3 separate regions of the Homo sapiens genome follow, and all the other regions are linked to region 2. The links come from fine-mapping of genetic effects on gene expression. A gene starts in region 2. Each other region holds a variant in brackets. All regions are shown on one strand. Distances are between the middles of the regions.

Region 1 (6,201 bases), 61 kb before region 2:
ATTCTCCTGCCTCAGCCTCCCTATTCAGCTACTTTGAAATGGATTTTTGTTTACCTGATCTCACACGCACACACACACACACCCTGGGTAAAATAACCAAAACCTTGTTATCAATTGCCAAACATTTCCAGGAATTTTTTTAAGACCAAAATCAACTTTTTACCCTTTATTGAATATGCTGTTTCTAAAAATGTACATATGCTTTTTTTTTTTTTGACACTCACTATTTTGCTCAGGCTGGTCTCAAACCCCTGATCTCAAGCGATCCTCCCACCTAGGGCTCCCAAAGTGCCGGGATTACAGGTGTGAGCCACCACACCTGACCCATATATGCTTTCAATGTAAATATGTACATGTTTGCTTCGGCAACTGGTTTCAAAAATAGAAACAAGGCAACCACCAGAATTTGGGATGAACAAAAAGAGAACTTTCCAGAAAAATGTTCCCTCACATCACTTCTTGAAAGCAAACATTTTCAGCAGGAGGAGCCTGGGAAAAGGAATGAGGGTGTTAAGACCTGACTCTCAGGCGTGGAGTCCTGTGGGTACCAACTGCTCCCAGCCCTGCCAGAGTAGGCCAGACGGGAGACATTCTCTGGAAAATCCAAATACTGGGCTCAAAAACATGAGCACCATCAAGAATAGAATGGGGTTTAAATGGATAACATGCATTTATAGAGCCTGCAAGAGAGAAACTGAGACACTCTAACAGTGGCTGGCTAAATCCTCGCTGCCCACCCACAGCATGAATAGAAGAGTAGAAAGACAAAGTACAGACCTCCGGCTGGATAGCTTTAAACACAGGTATATCCATTAATGTAATCTGGCTCTGCAACAAAAGAGAATCAATTTTAGAAAATACTGTACATCAAAGATAACTGTCATGTTACTTTATACAGAGTCATATACACTCATAAAAGTTATACTTTCCCCTTTGAGATAAAAAACAAGACCAAATAGAGTAAAAAATTGGATACATTTCTGAAATGCCTCTCCCATCCCTTCCCCCGCTTCATAAATTCTGATCCACACCCTTCTTTCTTGAATGTGAGATGAACTTTCAATTTAGGAATTGATAAAAGTTGTTTGGGGGGTGGGCCTGGGAGAAAAGGGAACAGTTTTATTTGAAAATTTTCATACTATTTGAATTTGTATTTCAAGCATGAACTACTTTTGTAATTTTTTAAAGTTGTAGAAACAATATTTAAAATTAGAATGCTAAACAGAAACACTATTACTATAAATTAAGTTCATTTTAAAGCTGTGGCTTATAGAAATTATATTTTTCTTCTGAAGTCATTGATACTGCCCCTAAATTATATGGTAGAGTGCTATTCAAGACGCACCCACAGACCAGCACGGGACAACAAACTGTTTATTCCACCAGCCCACAATGAGAGAAGTACAGAAGCTGAGAGCAAGCATTTGGAACTTGCATAGCAATTTTTTACATGACCATGACATTTCCATTATATACATTTTAAGTATCTGTCCTCAAATTATTGCAAATGGAAAAAACTAGTCCTTCACCACAGCCGGCTTAAGATGCAGCAATGTCATCAATAGAGAAGACACACATCAGGTTAAAAGGCTGTGCCCATCATAAGAACCTCATCTGGTGACAGTAACAGGAAGCATCATGCTGACCATTTTTCAGACCAAGGCATGAACTGAACTGACTTCACGTGATCCACCTACCTCCATGTCACATGGGATGCCAGATGTCAGTTAAGAGATGCCTCTGTGACACGCCAGGGAGAGGAGAGCTGAAGACCTTTGGATGCCTTTAATGTGAGAAGACACTCTGTCCATTGAACACAGGCCATCCAGGATGACATGATACAGGGAACAAATGGGCTCTGGAGTCTACAGGGCTTGGGTGTGTGTCTGGACACTGTCACTTAACGGCAATGTTCTCTTTGACACACAATCTCTCTCAGTCAGGTACCACATCTAGAAAATGATGACAATAATCCCTATTTTATGGGATCTTGGTGAAAATTCAAGACAAGAGGTAGCGTTCCTGGCACCTGACAGATGCTCAATAAACACATAAGACAGTGTGTTTATGTGTGTGTATCTGAGTGTGTGTGTGTGTGTGTGAGTATATGGTGTGTGTGACTGTGAATGTGAGTGTAAGCGTATAAGTGTGTGTATGTGTGAGGGTGTACGTGTGTGCGTGTATATGAAAGTGTGTGTGTGTGTGTGTGAGAATGAGTGTTGAGTGTAAGGGGGTGTGTGTGTGTCAAAATGGAAGCCACACAGATGGGCTCATGTACTGGCATGTGAACTTACGGTTCCTGACCAATACATAAGCTAGCAAATAAGGGACCATTAATTTGGTTGAATATTCATGCACTGAGGTTGCTCTAAAGAACATGTTTAAAATCCACTGAGCCAGTAAAAACCCTTGTATTAAGAATATATTAGAGAAAAATGGCAACACACTCAAAGGTGGTCCAAGGTCACTGGGTTCCTGAGAAGCACGGGATACAGGCCAAAGCAGACCATCCTCAGGCAGAGTGGAGAGGAAAACATGCAGCTGGCTTCAGTGGAGAGCCTCTTTGTACTCTCCCAGGAGCGGAGCTAGTGTTCTTCATGGAAACGGGTGAGATGCTGCCACCAGCCTGGCTGAGAGGTGGGAGAGAGGACCAGGAATAAGGAAGCACTGGAGCGGAATCTGAGCTCTTCCGCCTCCAGTTTCCACCCAACACCTCTTGATGTCAAGGAGACTCTTGACATCAGCATAATGTATCTGGCCCTCATAATCTGGGTGTTGAGTGGCCAGTAAGCCCTGAAGGCCTATAGGTCTATGTTTGGCCTAGAGCTCCATGGCTCAGAACTATGTCCTGAGCAGTGCAAACAGACTGGCATTTCTTCTGCCAGATCCATCAAGATGGTTAGCCAAGTGCTTCTCATATTTGGATTAAGTCTGCCATCCTGGGGAACAGAAAGGCCTTGTAAAGACAGGAGATTTGACCTGAAAGCTCAGAGGACCTTGGAAATCTCCCCTGCACTTCAAGTTAACACCCTATCCGGGAGAACCGGCAGGATGTTTGCAATGTCATTTAGGAAAAGAACCAAACGTCTGCTAATGTGAAAATGAGAAAACTTCCTTTCCATCCTGCCACCAGTTCTAGGGTTTGCTACTGAATTTCCAGATGATTTATTAAAGCAGTGACCTTACATTTCACACTTTTTGGATGGTCCAAGTTTCAAATATTCTGCTCTCTGCTCAGACCATAAGTCAGAAAATGTGTTCAGGTGTTTTATTCAAAACAAACAACAACAGAGGTCACCAGACTTAGACTAGCTAGTCCGAAATACATAATGAGGTTTCAGAAGAATCTCTATTTCTATCCTTTCAATTCTGACCAAAAAAGATACAGTATCTAGAGCAAGGATATTTTGATACAAGATACTTACAAAGATCATCAGATTATCGATTTCATGCCATTTTACTAAAAAGCCAAACATATGTTAGAGGTCGCTGATGAGTAATCCTTCCCTGGAAGTTTGAACCCTCAAGGCC[A/G]CTCAGTTTTACCAAAAAGGGGGGTGGGAAGTATGGGTAGGGGTTGGGGTAAGAGGTGAGGTCAGGTCCTGTCACACTTCATAGCCAGCTCTCGGGACCATCTCAGCGCCCTGTCCCTCCCTCAGGAGAGGTACCTTGGTTTCCTGGAGAGAAAAGGCATTTTCTAGGGGTATGTTACAGCCTCAACAGAAACATGAGACAAGGAGCCTCCCACTCTCGTTTCCAAGCAGCAAATCCGGCCAGTAGTGGGGCTGAGCGAGAACACTCGTAAGTCTCTTAATGGCCTATCCTTATTTTGAGAAATAAAGCATTAACATAGGATGTCCAGTCAAGCTAGTCACCTGGCAATGGCTTCCTTAAGCCTTCTCCCATCTCCTCCTTCCTCCTAGTCCAGGGCCCTCTAAAAACCCAGGCTTTTAAGGGAAATGCTACTTGGTTAGCCAAAAGGAAAAAAAAAAGTTTTTTGCATATGTTAAATGTAGTATTTCTCCTCTCTAACAGTGGCTGACTAAATCCTCTCTTCCCAGCCTCAACCTTAAATGTAAGGGTCTTCCAGACCCCAAATAAACAAACAAAAAAAGCTGTTGGCTTTACCCCACTCCACCAAGGCATGGCCAGGAGGGCGCACAGAACAGAGTAATCAGCTCCAAAGATCTATTCCTGCTTTGACTCACAGAACCACAGAAAGCCCGTGTCCGGCAATTTAGAAAAGAGTCAGGGGATGGGCCTAGGAACTGTTCTGTTCCTTTTGAAAATTAATCTAGCAGTAACTTATTTAAAGCTTTTTTAACTTTTCATTTTTAAAAAATGTCAAACTAGGCTGGGCACAGTGGTTCATGCCTGTAATCATAGCACTTTGGGAGGCTGAAGCTGGCGGATCACTTGAGGTCAGGAGTTCGAGACCACCCTGGCCAACATGGTGAAACCCTGTCTGTAATATGACATACAAAAATTAGCCGGGTGTGGTGGTGCATGTCTGTAATCCCAGCTACTCAGGAGGCTGAGGCAAGAGAATTGCTTGAACCCGAGAGGAGTGGGTTGCAGTGAGCCGAAATCGCACCACTGCACTCCAGCCTGGGAGTAAGTGAGATTGTCTCAAAACAAAACAGAAAGTCAAATCTACAGAAAAGTCACAAAGACAAATACTATATGACTCCACTTACATGAGGTAACTAGAAGAGTCAAAATCATGGAGTCAGAAAGTAGAGTAGTGGTTGCTGGGGGTTGGGAGGAGAGGGAATGGGGAGTTGTTTAATGGATACAGAGTTTCCATTTTGCAAGACGAAAGCAGTTCTGGAGATTGGTTACATGACACTGTGAATGTACTTAACACTGCTGAATTGTACACTGAAAAATGTTAAGATAGTAAATTTTATATTACGTATATTTTGGCACAATCAAAACGAATAAAAGAGCCACCCCAGAAGTTCTTCAATGTGACTTGTCCCAATCACAAGTCTCTCTCCCACCAAAAGTAACCATTATCCTGACTTTCTTCAAGTTTTTTAAATAATTTAATCACTCAAGTATATACACCTATACATCACAGGGTAGTCCTGTCCACTTTTTTAAAAATTTGATAAGTGCTATCTACCTACCTACCTACCTACCTACCTATTTTAGAGAGAGTGTCTTACCTGTTGTCCAGGCTTGAATGCAGTGGTGTGATCATACCTAGTGAGCTAACCTCAAAATTCTGGGTTCAAGTGATCCCTCCTGCCTCAGCCTCCTGAGAAGCTACAACTACAGGTATAAGCCACCATGCCCAGCTAACTTTTTAATTTTTTGTAGAGATGGATTCTAGCTCTGTTGCCCAGGCTGATCTCTAACTCCTGGCCTCAAACAATCCTCCCACCACAACCTCCCAAAGTGCTGGGATTACAGATGTAAGCCACCATGCTCAACCTGATACATACTTTTTGTTTGTTTTGAGATGGAGTCTCGCTCTGTCGCCCAGGTTGGAGTGCAGTGGCGCAATCTCGGCTCACTGCAACCTCCACCTCCTGGGTTCAAGCGATTCTCCTGCCTCAGCCTCCTGAGTAGCTGGGACTACACGTGTGCGCCACCATGCCTGGCTAATTTTTGTATTTTTAGTAGAGACAGGGTTTCACCATATTGGCCAGGCTGGTCTCAAACTCCTGACCTTGTGATCCGCCCACCTCAGCCTCCCAAAGTGTTGGGATTACAGGTGTGAGCCACTGCCCCAGCCGATATGTACTTTTAAAATCTCTTTTAATCTACAAATATTCTCTCCATCCCTTTATATTCCTTGTAATACATCTGCTGAAGAATCCAAGCCATAAGTTCTCCACACTTATGGAACAGGTCAATGTGTTCTTCCATTCTTGGTATGTCTGCAAATCAGCAGCTGGACCCAGGGACTTCATCAGACACAGGTGCATCCCTTTGGCAAGACCGCAGGTGGCGGCACACTGCTTCATCAGGAGGCACACAATGGCTCTCCTTTTGTAATGTTAGTGGCTATTGATGTTCACTGCTTAGATATTTTCATTCACTGGGGTTACAAAATGATGATATTCCAATTCTTTCATTTCTTTTCCTTTTCTTAACTGAATAATTTAATAGACACTTTCCCTCATCTACTGTTTGGTTATCCAGTGTAGTTTGTTCAAAAGTAAAAGGTAGGACAAATGCTTGATTCTTTCCTCA
Region 2 (5,000 bases):
GGCCAGCACCATGGTTCCTGGCCCCTAAAGTCCCACAGCTTCTACAGTGAAAAAAAAAAAATTCAGGTTAGTAGAGAAGGCTCCACCTACCTTCACTTCTGTCCATGCAACGAAGGTAGGAGGCATTACAGTTTGGACTGGTCAACTACCAGTGAGCAGAGGCACTGGGCTTTGAAAGGTCACATATATGGGTATACAACACTCTTCTGAAATTCAGAAAAAGCCCTGTCATCCTGCTTCCTTCTCCCCGCCCCTGTGGGTACACAGTGGAGTCAGGCATTGCCTTCTTTTGGGGGTCTTCTTTTGGGGATTTTTGTGTGTTTTGAGATGGAAAAGTCTCACTCCATCGCCCAGGGTGGAGTGCAGTGGCACGATCTCGGCTCACTGCAACCTCCGCCTCCCACGTTCAAGCAATTCTCGGCCTCAGCCTCCTGAGTAGCTGAGATTACAGGTGCCCGCCACCATGCCCGGCTGACTTTTGTATTTTTTAGTAGAGAGGGGGTTTCACCATGTTGGCCAGGCTGGTCTCGGACTCCTGACCTCAAATGATCCACCCGCCTTGGCCTCCCAAAGTGCTGGGATTACAAGCGTGAGCCACCGCGCCCGACCCTCTTGGAATGTGGTAAAATCGGGGTCTGTACTTGGATGGGGGCAGAGGGACTTCCATAGCCTCAGGCCTGAGCTTTATGTTCCAGCTCAGAGTCCTCACCGGGGTTGGGGTCTAAAGGTCAGCAAACAAATGTTCTGCTGCTTCCACTTGCCACTGCTCCCTGCGTTGCAGCAGCTCCCTCAGAGGCCTCGCAGAGAGAAGCAGTCACGATCCAAGACACGGCTGAGTCTTTTGGGAACTCCCAACAAAACCTCATCCCAAACTGCGAAAAGACAGTGGTCTAGTCTCACCTCTTAACTAGAAACAAACCCTCTCTTCTTTAGACTCTCCAGTCCCTGAATCCAACCTGCCCATCGGCACAAGAAAAAGGAAACTCATAACTTTATCCAGCGATTTGCTCAGTAGGCACTGTTTCATCCTATCCTCACCAGGCCCCTGGGAGGCACACAGGCAGGTACTAACATGCTCATTTTGCAACGGAGGAAACAGGTGAAAAACTCTCCCAGGTAGCATAGTCAAAAGCTTCTGAATTCTCATCCCTGCTCTCCCCACTTAACAGGCTGCCATTTCAGTCTTTTTGAGACGCACTGCTGAGATCTACAGCAGCTTCTGGTACCAGTGGCCAGCAAGCCAGGACCCCTCCCAAGCCTCATACTACTCTTCAAGCACACACATTTTTCAACAACCGATCATCCAATGACAACCAACCCCCCGCCCCCCGCATCCTGGCAAGCCCCTTCAATAGCAACAGGAAAGCCCCTGAGGTGCGAAAAACAGCGCGCCCCACTTAGGGCGCGGCGTAGCATAGGGGAGGCAACCGGCCAGTAACCAGGGCAGCTGAGCTCCAAGCCCGAGTCAGCAGAGGCACAGGCAGGCCCGGACGGCCCTTCTAGCGGCAGCCCCGGATGCCCCCAGAATCCTCAGGGAGCCCAAAGCCCCCGCTCCCACCCAAGCACCCCTGGGCAGCGGAGAGGGCGGCCTTTCCTTCTCGGGCGACCACTCACCCTCGCCTGCTCCTCACCTGGGGCCCTGCTTCCGTACCGCAGCCACCCGGGCCCCGCCCCCCACCGCTGCAGGTCCCCGGGCCCCGCCCCCCGCACCTGTGCTTTCCTTGGGTCCAGCGCGGGCCGCACCCCACAGCCCCGCCCACGGCAGCCCCGCCGGCCCCGCCCCCCGCACCTGCAGCCGCGGCGCCCCGCCCAACTGCCCCCCCGGCCCCGCCCCCCGCGCCCGCGCCTCTTCCCCGCCGTCCTTCACGCTCCCGGGGACCAGCGCGCCCCTGGCCCCGGACCCCAGAACCCCCGGACCCCGGCCAGGCCCCGGCGCCGGGCACCCGCAGGCACGGCCCCGGCCCCGCCTCCCGCACCGAGGCCCCTCCCCGGCTTCGGCGGCCCTCGGGGTCCCGCCCCCCACACCTGCAGCTCCCTCAGGCCCGGCCTCAGGGCCCGCCCCGCCCCGCCCCGCCCCGTCGGCCGCGCCTCTCACCGCCGCTCTCCCCGCCGCCGCAGTCCCGGCCGGTCACCTTGACGCGGGCCGCAGTGGCTGCCGCCGCTTCCTCATGGCCCTGGGAGCGGCCCAGCGGCAGCGGCGCCTTCGCTTGGAGGCCGGGGCCACGCCGAGCCGGGCCGGGGCCGGGCCAGGCGCAGCTGGAGCGCGGGCAGACGCGGGAGCGGAGCCGGTGCCCAGCCGCAGTAGGAACCGTCCGCTCCAGGGCCTGAGCGGCGGGCCTCTCATCCAATCGGCGCGCGGCACCAGAACAGCCCCCCAACCAGCTCGTTGTAGGGGCGGAGACACGCAAATCGGCCGGCTGGTCGTACCAGTGCGCAGCCGCTGCATCCGCGGTCCTCCCGGGCCTCGGCCTCCGAGCTCATCTGCAGACGCCCTCCCCGCCCGCAGGGATGCTGCGCTGCCAGCACACCCGGCCCGCCGCCCGCCACGCCCATCCCCTGCCTAGAAATAGCCGCGCATCTTATTCCCCACACGGCCGTCCAGGCCTCACCCGATATCCCCCGTAAATCCCTACCTGGGATTTATCGTTTTCAACAAAAATGGTTTTGTGAGCGAGACATCGCCTTAGTGCCCATTCTTCACAGCTGGGAGGTAGGCACAGAGCCCAGAACGTCAGAGCCAGAAGAAACCTCGGAGTTCCTGGCGGGGCGGGGGGGGGGGCGGTCTCATCCATTTTACAGCTGGGCAGAGTTAGGCCCAACGAGGTGAAGGGACTTGCCCAAGACCACACAGGAGCAAAGCTGGGGAATGAGCCCGGATCCTGTCTCTCTGCTCCCACATCTTTACTCTGTGCCAGGCACGGTGAGGTGGGCACAGAGGTTAAGTCATTTAGCTAGAGTCGCAGGGATAATAAATTGCAAAGACAATTGAAGCCAGGTCTGTGAATCCCTGGAAATCTGGAACCACAGCAAAACTCCGTTCTGCCTCCCACAGACAGGAGGTACTATGACCTGCCCTACTCCGAAAGATTCTTGGACAAATAGAACATCATTCTGACAATCTTCAAAGTAATTTTGCAGTAATATGAATGAATATGGAATGATTGGTTATTATGCTTCCCAAAGCTTATGAAAGGAAAAAAGAAACAAACAAAAAAGAATATAAATAGAGTCAGTAGAAGTTAAACCACCTGTGTCTTAAAAGACCTCTGGGAGAAGTTTCTGCTATTTTGTATTAAGAAAACGGTAATCATCGAAGAAGGTGCTTAATTATTTTGCATAAAGAGAACAAGAGCCTGGCGAGTTGGCTCATGCCTGTAATCCCAGCACTTTGGGAAGCCAAAGCGGGAGGATTGCTTGAGTTCAGAAGTGTGAGACCAGCCTGGGCAACATGGCCAGACCCTGTCTCTAATAACAATACAAAAATTAGCGAGGCGTGGTGGCGCAGACTGTAGTCCCAGCTACTCAGGAGAGTGAGATGGGAGTATCACTTGAGCCCGGGAGGTCAAGGCTGCAGTGAGCCTCAAGTGATGGCGCCACTGCACTCCAGCCTGGATGACAGAGCGATACCCTGTCTCAAAAAAGAGAGAGAGACCATCCTGGCTAACATGGTGAAAACCTGTCTCTACTAAAAATACAAAAAATTAGCCGGGCGTGGTGCGGACGCCTGTAGTCCCAGCTACTCGGGAGGCTGAGGCAGGAGAACGGCGTGAACTTGGGAGGCGGTGCTTGCAGTGAGCTGAGATCGCACCACTGCACTCCAGCCTGGGCGACAGAGCGAGACTTCGTCCCAAAAAAAAAAAAGAAGAGAGAGAGAGAACAAGAGACAGTGTAGTGCAATGGTTCTGCCCTGGCTCTGCCACCAGCAAGCTGTGTACATGTGAGCAAGTTACTTAGCATATCTATGTGCCTCCGTTTCTTTCTTTTTTTTTTTTTTTTTTTTTGAGACGGAGTCTTGCTCTGTTGCCCAGGCTGGAGTGCAGTGGCACGATCTTGGCTCACTGCAACCTCCGTCTCCCAGGTTCAAGCAATTCTCCTGCCTCAGCCTCCCAAGTAGCTGGGATTACAGACGCCAGACACACCATGCTCAGCTAATTTTTGTATTTTAGTAGAGATGGGTTTTCACCATGTTAGCCAGGTTGGTCGCGAACTCCTGACCTCAGGTGATCTGCCTACCTTGGCCTCCCAAAGTGCTGGGATTACAGGCTTGAGCCACCGCGCCCAACCTGCCTCGGTTTCTTTATTGAAAGATGAGAATGATAAAAGTAGCAACCTCTTTAGACAGGCTGTTGGCAGGAATTAATGAGATGATACATGGAAGAGTGCCTGGCACCTAACAGGACCTCAATAAACATTGGCTACTATTATATTTACCTGTGTGACTTTGGGCAAGCACAGAAGTGTGTGCAATGTACGCTTGCTAAATGGCATCTATACTTTTATTATGCTTATGCATACTTTCTAAGTTTTTTCAATGAACACAGATTCTTTTGTGATATATTAGAAGTTATTATAAACCCAATTTTAAAATGAGGAAAGGTCATTTAATATTGATTCTTGATGCTTCCAGAAGGATGTATTCATTCTTTCTACAAATATCTAATGGTTCTCTGCTATGCGCCAAGTGCTACTGTAAATGCTGAGAAAACAGCAGTGAATAAAAGAGACAAAAATTCTTGTCCTCGTGGAGTTGACATTCTAGTGGGGTAAGGCAGCTATTAAAATCAATATTTACAGTAGTAGGCTAGATAGAGAAAAGTGCTATGGGAGTAAAATGAAGCAAGGAAGAAGGGAGTTCAACGTTAAAGAAGACAGAAAAGTTTAGATGGTGATAAGCGAGAAATAATAGGTTTCTTAAAGCAATAAAGCCAAGTGCAGTCTGAGAAAGAGAGAGAGAGAGAAGGATCTGAATAGACATTTCTCCAAAGAAGATACACAGTGGT
Region 3 (5,000 bases), 48 kb after region 2:
CCAGGACCCTTCTGAAGTGTGCGTATCTAGGTCCCTATACAACAACCCCTTATCCCTAGCGAGCTGGACCTGTGTTACATTCCTGCCCTAGGACAGTGTCAAGGAAAGGGATGGAGATGGGGTGGGGGGTGGGGGTGGGCAAACATCCTCCCTATTGCTGCCCAGAATAGAGAAGGGCAAATGAGGGCATTTTAGTAATATCCATCAAGATTACATCTGCATATTCGCTGTGACCAAGCAATTTCAGCTGTAGGAGTTTAGTGAAGCACCCTCTTTGTAGAGCAAAATCTCCCTCTTTTCTAGACCAGAATCACTAGCAGAAGGGTTATGAGGAGAAGAATGTTCCAGGTGGGCCCCGCGGCCACCGTGTATCATGCCCTCCATATTCACAGCTTTGATCCCCCTTTCCTCCTCAGAGCCCCGGACCCTGGCTCACTCTACTTGCTTTAAATAAAAAGCTATCTTTACATGCGAAAGCCTCAATTAATTAGAAACCACAGATCTAGGGCTCAAGTAAACCGGTCCTTTTGGTGTTTGAAGGTGAAAGTCACAGAGAGCAGATGCTGCCAAGAAGACACAGGGTTCAGCCCAAGTTCAACAGAATTCAAAGCAGCATTGAGACCGGCGCCCTGAAAGCAACAGCAAACTGTGAGGGGCCCTCCAGGACTGACCAAGCAGTGACGAAGCCAAGTCTGAAAGCACCAGAGGACGGCAGACATGGAAGCCACACTGCAAAGGTGAGCACAGCTGAAGGCGAGCAGCTTTGGGAGAAATGAACACACGCTGTGGAGTGATGGCCGGCTGGGCAACCAGAGCAGGAGGACACTCACACAGTGAGGCACTGTGGGTACAAGCCACAGGGAGAGCGGCACTGCCTGGAAATGACCGCACGAGCCATCCTGGGACACTCCTCCCACAGACCTGAAGTCCAAAGCCAAAGCGGGGGCTCTGGAAATAAGCAGGCATGGATGCGCTGAAAAGAAAATTAAGGTCTGATGCGAGACCATATGACGACAGGCTTGGTAAGTAATGCTGCTTGACATCTTCGCAAGATCCCACTCAAAAAAGCTACAGAATCCATCACTGCGCCCATGCATCAGGACAGCAAGAGGCTGCTCTGCAACAACACACAAGGGAGAGACACCCCCCAATCCAGGTTAACGCATTTTACCCAAAGGGGCTTAAGAACAAAAAGCCACTCGACAAAAACAGGAAGAGCAAGCGACCATCATGTCACATTCACGGCTGAGGCTGAGAAGGGTGAACAGAAACCAGTAACTCAAGCCCCTGCTCTTCCATTCAGCTCCCCACCCTCACTGAGTTAGTAAAAGAGGCAAAAAGGCAATAACTGCCCTTATATGTAACATTAGAGGGTCACATAAAATACCGTGGCCCACCAATGGCAAACACAGCTCCTTTGAATTTTCAAAGGTGTCACATGTCAACCAATTTCTTATAAAGCACCAAGGAATGTATGGAGGATCTTATTACTTTCCATTTAATGCCACTCTATTCCTATGCCAGTATTTTAAAAAGACTTATCACCAAAAAAAAAAAAACAAAAAAATGAAAGACAACATGGGTGAATTTATTTATAACACTGACACAAAGGCCTTTCCAAGCATGACATAAATCTCAGACGCCACAAAGGCAAAGACAAATACATTCGACAACGTAAAAGTACATGACAAAAAAAATACCCCTTTTCGCCAAAAGCCAAAAGATAAATGATATATTGAGGAAAAATATATGCATATTTGACAAAGAACTACTTTCCAAATTCCTTAATTTACAAATCAAATTAGGTGACATACACAAAAAAAACCCCTATGGGAGAATGGGCAAAGGATACAAACAGCTCAAAAAAAAAAAAAAAAGAAAAATGACAAAAAAAGAAGCAAAGATGCTAAAATTTACTTCTGATTAAAGACGTTTGAAATACAAAAAGAAAAAATAATGAGATACCATTTTTAACCCATCAGCCTTGCACACAGTTTAAAAGAGCTGGCAAGTGTAGTCCTCAGGAATGAATAATTTGGTA[A/G]TATCTATCAAAATGTAAAAGGCATTTACCTTTTGGTCCACAAGTAACGGGGAGGAATTAAGCCTACTAATATATAGGACCTACAAAAGTGTAAGAGAGACATATGAGAACAACCACTAAGAATTTTTCTTTGCTATAGCAAAAAAAAAAAAAAAAAGGAACCCCCAAAGGAAACTGGTTTCAAAAAATATAATCAACAATGAAATACTACGCAGCTATTAAGAAGAGTGGGTAGATCTGTATGCTTTGATATGGAAGGAGTGCTAAGATTTAGCCAAAAACAGCAAGATGTAGACTAATATGTATGCATATATGTCATTCCCTTCATGTACGTTTTGTAAAGGAATTATATTACGTTGCTTGCTGTATCCATTTTGGAAGGAACCACGTGGTACTATTAATGGTGGTCACTGTGGGGAAGGACTAAGGAGAGGGAAGGGAAACAGACTTTATTTTATACCTTTGCATTTAAAAAATCACATAACTATTATTCTCACTAAAATTTTTTTTTAAGCCATGTAGGTTAGTACCTACAAATATATAATTTTTTAAACCAAGGAATCTAGAGTAGAAAGATGGGCTGCAAATGGATAATTATTACATCAAGCAGACAGTTATAAAGGCAGAAACGAAGAACTACAAGGAACAATACAAGGCTGATTACTTTTGACCAAAAAGATTTTTAAAAAATCAAAATAGAACAAAAGAAAACTTCATGGAGGAAGATATTTTTGAACAAGGCCTTGCATTTCAAAGGGAAAAAAAAGAACACTCCAGACAGAAGGAAAAGCAGGAACAGGGCACAGGGGAATGCAAACAGCGTCTGGGGTAGAGCAGGCAGCATGCAGTGGCCCCAGCTCAGGGACAAGGAAGGCCATGGAAGGAGAAGGCCACAGTCAGAAGGTGGAGGGCCTTGAATACTCAGAGAACTCAAACAGAATTCTGGCGGCAGCACCTGGAGACTGAGGCATGGTGTCTACTCGGAGGCCACGTAGCTCAGCCAGGACAAGCTGGGCTCAGGTTTTTCACGGGGTCGTGGGAAATATGGGGCTGGAGCTAGAGAGAAATATTAGACCCGAAGATACTGATTTGGGAGTGACTGTGTACTGACTGAGGATCGTTTTGGTAAAATGAGGTTACTCGGGGAGGGAAAAAAAAAAGAGAGAAGGCTGAGAATAGAAAGGGTGTTTGCTCCTAGAAAAGAGGAATGGAAACACAGCACCTGATGAAGGGGGTAACATCCTCACCTAGCCCTCTCCTCAAGCCTTTCCACTGACTAGTTTTGTTTTTGTTTTGTTTTGAGACAGAGTCTTGCTCTGTGCCCAGGCTGGAGTGCAGTGGTGCAATCTCGGCTCACTGTAACCTCCGCCACCCAGGTTCAAGTGATTCTCATGCCTCAGCCTCCTGAGTAGCTGGGATTACAGGCATGTGCCACCACATTCAGCTAATTTTTGTGTTTTTAGTAGAGACAGGGTTTTACCATGTTGACCAGTCTGGTCTCGAACTCCTGGCCTCAAGGGATCCGCCTGCCTCAGCCTCCCAAAGTGCTGGGATTACAGGAATGAGCTACTGCGCCCGGCCCCATTGGCTAGTATCTTTAAGTAAAATTCTGCACCACGTATTCTGTTAAGCTGTGAGGAAATGCAACAATGGAAAACTAATGACATCCTCTCACACTGCTGACCCATTCTGCAGAGAACCTAAAAATAAGAAGGGACTCTCAGATGCCATCTGGGCAAAACACCCACCTGGGCCTTAAAATCTCCTCTACAACTTTCTTGGATAAAGCCTTGGAACTGTCTCCACATATCAACAACCAGAACAAAAGTAAAAATGTAAAAGCTGAACAATTAGAAATGTGCTGATTCTGTGAGACTCCTCACTGCTGAGCTTCCACTCCTGGCGGTGAGCTCTCTGAGGGCAGGGACTGCGTGCCCAGAGCCCAGCAGTGTGTCTGGGGCAGAGAGGCTCTCAGTACATGTCAACTAAAACAAGCTGGTGGCTCAAGATCCATGGACTGCCACTACAGCCGCACCCTCAGCTCTGAACTTTTCCTTCTGGAGACCCCAGAGATGCGGGATCGTCTCTGCCCACAGCAAAATCTAGCACGGTGGCTTATTCCAACCTAACCCATAAACAGTCTAATTTGCTCCACAAGATGCTACACTTTGTTTAAAAATATCCAGTTACACTTCCAAGAAAAGAAAGGAAAGTTACAAATTTGGAAGTTGTTTAAGGCACCAGGAGGTACCCATTATTCTCAATCAAGATGCTCATGATTCCAAACCCAGATTTGCACCTGCTGGCTTCAGTCATTTGCTGATACCTGAGACACAGCTCAAACGAGGCTTTCTCTGGCAGGCACTGGAAACCTGAAGATCCCTAATTTTCATTTTCATACAAAGTCATTAAAAAGACCACAGACTGAAGCACCGCAGACAAAAGGCATGGTAACAGAAGTAACAATTATATAAAAATAACTTTTCTAGGTATTTCTGCCTGGGTCTAGATTAAAACCAAAATTGAGCTGTCATGAGCTACAATCTAATCTTTTAGAAAGCAGCAGTCAAATAACACCAGGGCTGTGTGAAACATTCTGGTGCTACTGAAACCCAATGCAAGAAAAAAAAAATAAATAAAATGGCATTCTGTGATGGATATTCATGAAGCACTCATCCTAATTTAAAAGAAAACAAGTTTAGAGTTCTTACTGCATTAATTCATGTGAGCCTGAAAGAACATTTTTATCCAAACTGTTACATTTCCTACCAAGGCGTTAACATTCTCCAGGTCTGCTCAGATACACTAATTCCAAGAGGGTGCGATTTGTCTTTTAGTCAATGCAAAACATCATCAGAAGCTTCTTCTGAGCTTTCCAAGCAGGAGAGGAATGGCCTCTTTAATTTTACTAGCAATGACAAGGACTAACGGTCAGTAGGCTCCTACTGTGTACAGTATG

Direction of the effects. Alleles are on the strand shown, and positions count from the first base shown. SD is a standard deviation of normalised expression in the study named. Not every link is listed here.
In carriers of allele A in region 1, the expression in Th17 cells of the gene that starts at base 2,326 in region 2 tends to be higher than with G alone (large effect, 0.88 SD a copy in Schmiedel 2018).

Evidence for each region. PIP is the estimated chance that this variant, and not a neighbour inherited with it, causes the effect. A credible set is the group of variants that fine-mapping cannot tell apart.
Region 1: its variant is the best candidate, but not a certain one, in a credible set for the expression of RALGPS1 in Th17 cells (Schmiedel 2018, PIP 0.59).
Region 3: its variant is the best candidate, but not a certain one, in a credible set for the expression of RALGPS1 in whole blood (GTEx, PIP 0.84).

What each region holds. Positions count from the first base shown.
Region 1 is chr9:126,972,322-126,978,522 of GRCh38, reverse strand. It overlaps RALGPS1 (Ral GEF with PH domain and SH3 binding motif 1), which reads right to left. Exons shown (of 19, transcript NM_014636.3): 4 at 778-828. Among named protein-coding and RNA genes, the nearest start is that of RALGPS1, 61 kb to the right of the region's middle. The variant A/G (reference allele first, on the strand shown) is at 3,532.
Region 2 is chr9:126,912,108-126,917,107 of GRCh38, reverse strand. It overlaps RALGPS1 (Ral GEF with PH domain and SH3 binding motif 1), which reads right to left and starts at 2,326. Exons shown (of 19, transcript NM_014636.3): 1 at 2,133-2,326. RefSeq lists enhancers at 22-71, 1,365-1,434 and a silencer at 1,925-2,354.
Region 3 is chr9:126,864,325-126,869,324 of GRCh38, reverse strand. All of the region lies in intron 1 of ZBTB34 (zinc finger and BTB domain containing 34), which reads right to left. Among named protein-coding and RNA genes, the nearest start is that of ZBTB34, 6.2 kb to the right of the region's middle. RefSeq lists an enhancer at 272-853. The variant A/G (reference allele first, on the strand shown) is at 2,042.